2 separate regions of the Homo sapiens genome follow, and region 2 is linked to region 1. Evidence: fine-mapped expression QTL. A gene starts in region 1. The other region holds a variant in brackets. All regions are shown on one strand. Distances are between the middles of the regions. Region 1 holds the start of SPTLC3 (serine palmitoyltransferase long chain base subunit 3). Region 2 overlaps LINC01722 (long intergenic non-protein coding RNA 1722).

The links.
Region 2: its variant is fine-mapped to the expression of SPTLC3 in whole blood (TOPMed, PIP above 0.99).

The regions. Positions count from the first base shown.
Region 1 is chr20:13,007,670-13,010,581 of GRCh38, reverse strand. It overlaps SPTLC3 (serine palmitoyltransferase long chain base subunit 3), which reads right to left and starts at 1,610. Exons shown (of 12, transcript NM_018327.4): 1 at 1,198-1,610. The coding sequence starts at 1,314.
Region 2 is chr20:12,924,743-12,927,654 of GRCh38, reverse strand. It overlaps LINC01722 (long intergenic non-protein coding RNA 1722), which reads left to right. Exons shown (of 12, transcript NR_109868.1): 5 at 2,747-2,912. Among named protein-coding and RNA genes, the nearest start is that of LINC01723, 24 kb to the left of the region's middle. RefSeq lists a silencer at 937-1,137. The variant G/T (reference allele first, on the strand shown) is at 1,124.

The DNA of each region.
Region 1 (2,912 bases):
CAGGTGGGACAGGCCAGTTCTGAGGTTTCTGATAGACACCTCCCAGCGTTGGACAGTGCCTTTTGTTAAGAGGGGAATGCTTTTGGGGACCACAGCCTGTTTACACACAACTCAGGCTCTAGAGCTCCTTTAGCCTCTTCCAATTGCACACACGAATGTAATTCACTGAGAGGAGGACTGGCCCCAGCCAGACCCACCTGTCCTGTGATCTTAGAACAATCTGCCTTTCCTGTGGGTGGATACTTGCTCTCTGGATGATCAAATGATGGAAGATTGCATGGGGCTCCCTGTGCCACTTCTCTTTCCAAACAGGAGGCTACCTGTTTGACTACTTGGGCTTGCTCCTCAGGCAGATGAGCTCACTTCTGCTGCTCAGAGCAGAGTGACACGGGATGTCCTGTGGGGAGTGGGGAACTGCCTTACATAAGGACCTCACAGACCCAGGCTCTCTCTTAAAACAAGCTGACAACTTTCCTCGAGTTCCTCCTGCCTAGGACACTCTGCAAACATCCCGGTGCAATAAGAGTGAAAAAAAAAAAAAGTGTCAAGTTGGAAAATACAAGTTTGTTTTAAAGATGCTGTTCTGTTTTCTGAGAGCAGTGTGTCACAATCAGCCCTGCTTTCTGAAGTGTTTTGGAAAAGAATGTCTGTGACGTCACATTTCAAAGAAATACTGTGGCCTCAAATCAAGTAGTGAGCTAAAACAATGCTCCACTACACACCAATAATAACTCGCCTTTCAAACAGTGATGCATTTCTCATGGACCTGGGAAGAATGCCATCTCCACCACATAATGTCAGCAAAATGTACTTTCACTTCCTCTTTTTCTTCTGAAGCATGACGGTTGTAGCAGGTCTCTTGGACAAAAATATATGCAAAGAGTTGGAACTTTCTTAATTCTTCCCTCCCCGCAAAATGCTTGAGACAAAAGTCTAGTAGGTACATTTGTATTTTAGGGAGCCTGAAGCTGTGTGAGTCTGTGTGTATCCTCTTTTGCATACAGAAGACATTTTCTCCTTAATCCACACCTAAACTTTTTGGTAGCCAAGCACTTTCTATTAACAGAGTCAACAGTCAAAACATGTAAAAACCCTTCATAAGATGAACTCTAAGTTAGGACAGCCTCAAATATCTTCACAGAGAAATATTGAAACGTTCAGGTAATTCAGAGAAGAGTAGGGGAGAGTGCCTCTTACCTGGGCTTCCTTCACTATTCCATTCTTTGTGCAGTTTCTGCTTTGTGAGCCATTGCTCTGTTTCTTGTGATTGTGAAGTTTCCCGTTGCAAACAGCACCACCTCCAGGGTTAGCCATGGGTGTGAAGTGACAGAGCCCGGGACAGGTTTTCCTTCAGAGGTCTCTGCAGGCTTTAGTTTTCAGTCTGCGAGGGGATGGGATAAAGCTCTTTGGGGCTGAGCCCTTAAAGGAATCTTACCAATCAGGCTTTTCCAGAAGAAGAGCAACAGCCTATCTTTTTGTCAGATCGTTGAAACTAAAACAAATGGTTACCTTTATACTTCTCAACTCCCGTCAAAATGTGAACTCCATGGCAACAAACCTGCTTCCGAAACTGTAAAGGAGATTGTCCATGCTGGCTCCTTCTGGGGACTGAGGGAACCTGGGGACTGAACAACCCAGTGGCAAAGTGTGAGGAGGCGGGCTGGGAGGTGGAGAGTCTTTTAAAGACACACACACACAGCACACTCACAGAGTCTTCTAAGTAACTGAGTTCTGAGTTAACCTCTTTTTCCCACCCCCTCTCTCCTGCATGTAATTGTGGTTTTTGGTTGTAAACCAAGCTCAAAAGTTAATATTTCTTTTTGCTATAAAATAGCATTCAGAGGTGGTTGCCAGGGCCTGGAGGGATGAGGCAAAGGGAAGTTATTGTTTAATGGGTACAGAGTTTGAGCTGGAGCAGATGAAAAAGGTATAGTGATGGATCAGTGCACAACAATGTGAATGTACTTAAACTAAACTGTGCACTTAAAAATGATTAAAATGGTAAGTTTCATGTGATGTATACATTTCCATAATTTACAAATGATTTGAAAAGATTTTTAAAAACCCAGTATTCAAAACCAACCTATGTTAAAATCAGTACTATAATAAGGGGGTACCAATCCATCAAGAATTCCAGTAAGACAGATGTTGAGGAGACAGAATATTTGATGACTGCGTTATCTTTATCTCGTGACCTTGGGGGAGGTATTTACCCACTTTATGCCTCAGTTTTTCCATCTATAAAATATCTGCTGAGGTAGAACAAAAATCATGCTGTAGCTTGGGTTTGTTACTGACGCAGGTGTGAGGTGGTTGATGACTGCAGGGTCCCAGTCCTGAAACACATCTGGTTTACTCACTAACTCTTATTCTCTCAATGCATGAATCTTCAAGGCTTTGTTTCTTCCTACCATCATCAAATGGCATGGTGACATGATTTGCTGGAGAGTCATTACAACCTGTTGAGTCTTCCCAAGTCCACCCTTGTGGTTTTCCTGAGTCGAGACTTCTTTAGCATCAGACTCTAAGAAAAGAAACCAATTTATTGGGGCAGTAGACAAAAACAAACAATCAAACACACACACACAAACAAAAAGAAAGAAATGGCCCCTGTTTCCAGAGCCTCATGTCCTGTAACTCAGCTCCCTTGGACAGGGTTCAGTTCTACTCCAGATTAATGTAGCTTTTGGAGGTGGACATGCTAACGCTTCTCCTAACTATGACTTGCATATGAGGGTACCTGCCTTTACCATCCCAAGGAATGCTGGAGGAATAAGATAAGGCCTGAGGCCAAGGTGAAAGACGGAGTTAATACCAAGTGTGTTCAGCCCAGTTTGTGTCTCAAGTTCAAAAATTTTATCGCATTTCTCTCAACCTTTATCATCAAAGTAGAAGTAGATTTTCACTGGTCT
Region 2 (2,912 bases), 83 kb after region 1:
GTGTGTCAGGATGAAGCCTGGTCCCCTGTGGTGTTTAGTGTTCCTGAGGCCCTGAGCCCCCCGCAGAGGATGCATCAAGGGTGTAGTGACTGTTCGTGGGGCAGCGACATCCCAATAGACAGCATGCTTCTTTCTGCAAAAAATTGATTTCTCTGAGAAAAAGCATCGCACATCCAACCCAAAGCCAAGTCTCATTTCTTTCTCTTCCTCCTTCCCCCAGAGTTGTTGCATACCACAGCCTTGCACACATAAATACCTTTATTACACAGTTCTGTCTAATGAATGATAAATCAACTTATCTCCTATTCTACAAGGATGAACAGGAATGGTCTCACTGTTCATCTTCCTCCCAGGGTCCCTTCCTCAGGATGTCCTGCTTTCGTGTGTGTGTTTTATCCCCATAGGTCGGCTCAAGGAGAGGTTCTAGAAAGTGGGCACAGAAGTCCCTTCGGTTGGAAAACACTGGCTCCCATGACTCTGGTGGCTCAATGGCACAGTGAGAGACAGATAAGCATGGGCCTGAGCCTGCCTGTTTCCATAGGAGGCCTATAGCCCAGGCTGGTTCTGATGCTGTACATCCTGGAACAGACTGCATTTCTCTGAAGGAAACAGACCCAGAGAACAGAGGCACCATGCTCTCGGGTTCTCAGACAGTCTAAGCAGAGCAGGTCCCAGAGCCCAGAGCTACTGGACTGACCCCAGTCCTCTTGATGCCAGAGACAATATAGTCACTGCAAGAATTAAAGAAAGAGGAGAGAAACTTCAAGGGTGGCTTTACAGTCAACAGGGACAAGTTTATTTTAAATAAACCTGAGAGGGGCGGCTGGCCAAGCTAGGTCAGAGCCACACTCTCTTATGACCAAGAGTTTTTAAGAATTCAGGATAGGAGAGTTTATCAGAGGCTTGGATTGCTTCTGTGTCTCTTTGTTGTGCTTATCTGGGAAGGAGAGTTGTGTGTCTGTTCTCATATATCTTTCTGCAGCTGCAGGCATAGCCCCCTGAGTCTGCTTTTAGCTTCCCTATCTTAGTGCACCTGAAGGGAAAGGAATGTGCTTATTAAGGCCCACTGTTTTACTGGGGCCCGTTGTATGAGGGTGAACTTTGGCAGTTACCCAAGCGACTT[G/T]CCCCCTACTTTCCTCTGTGCCCGAGCTGTCTTATCTGTGTTTTACTGTCTGCTCTTTCTGGCTGCTTGTAGTTAGAAGAGAAGTGATTTCCTTGAAATGCATGAGGCTAGAAGGGGAGCTGGAGCTTAAAGTGGCGGTGTTTGTCTGAGATGACGGTGCTCCTGCTCTGTCAGTCTCAGCAGCATTTATTTCTTTTTCCTCCTCCTCTTTCTCCAGCAAAGGGCAGGTAGTTTAGTTGGTGGTTGCCTGGCCTCTCTTTAGCAAAACTCTAGCCCACTGCAAATCTCCCTGGGCAGTCGTGACTGGACGTGTGTTCACTGAGCCCCTGGGAGACAGGGCTGTGTCCTGAGTTCTGGGTCATCACGGCAGGCCCTGGAATTCAGCTCCGGGAGTACTGATCTCTGGCAAAAGCTATGTGCTTAAGGAAGGTGGACCCTCCCTAGGCCCAGGAGATGGATCTCACTAATCTAAACCAGTTATGGCATCCCTACTCCTCTTACTGCTGATGGTTTCAGGGACAGGCAGGTGACTGATTTCTGACCAGTCAGTTGTAAGTGTACATTTGCTGGTGTGTGTAGGGGGGGTGTCTGGAAAATTTTCACCTTTACAAAAATCCATGGGGAAAGAAAATCTGCCCATTTTTTGCCTTCACCAATGTGGTGAGAACATGATTCTTAGAGGTACTGCAGGCATCTCGTACCCAGGTGGGGTATCTTGTTCTCAAATGCCGATGCATTGGGGAAGACAGGTTGCAGCTGAGAAAGCAGTATTCACCCTTGAAAGTTCCCAGGGCTGCTGAGCCAACCTGAAATCGCCTTTATCCACCTTCCTGGGAGACAGGTTAACAGCATTCTCTCCTAGGGGTCACGGATCCTGGATTTTTTGTCCCTGTGTAGGAAGCGCCAACACATAGATACACTTGGCCTGAGAGAGGACAATGGCCTCCCAGGCTTGGGGACTGCAATGGGAAGGAAAGGGGGCTCTTCCTGAGACTTGGTGGAAGCTGCTATCAGCAGAGGCCCTTTGAATGCTCCAGTTACTCCATTGTTATTCATCTAGTGCCCACAATCCAAAAGATTATTCATTTGCTCAGAGCCGAAAGAGGAAATGAAATGGAAGGGAAGAAATGGGTTGGAGGCGCGGAAAAATGCACAAATGGCTAAGCTTAGGCTGACATCTTGTGGCTAAGCCCAAAAAAGGCACTTCACTAAGAAATGAACTGAGCAGCTGGGCAGCTCAGCAGGGGGGCAGCCTGCAGTCTGAAAACGGAACAGCAGCCTTTTAAATCCACTCTCACTTTTTCTTCATTCTCTTTTTTATTACATGTCAAATTTCTTCAGCAGTCTTTTTCTGTACTGTATAGCTATTAGAAAGAATATTTTAACTCTAATGACTACAGACTTAAATTTATTTCTGGCTAAAATACATTGTTATCTTGACTAATCCTGCTTCAAATTAAAACTGTTCACCCAAAATCAATTGATTATCTTTTTCTTTAAATTAGCAATGACATGCAATTGACTTGAGTAATCGTATAGTTTTCTACCTAGAAATTAATAAGCTGTGCCTCATATATTACATTTTTAATGACTAGGAAAACACCTTTTTCCCATTTTACACAGGTGGAAGCCAAGTGATGGCCAGGGTCACAGTGAGCAAATGGCAGATGGGATCTTGCATCCTAGTCCCTCAGAACCTACAGCCTGGAGGCGGAGTTAATGGTCACCACTTCCTTTGAATGCATAGGAACAAGCAGTCTGCATGTTGTCTCATTTAATCTTTAAAACC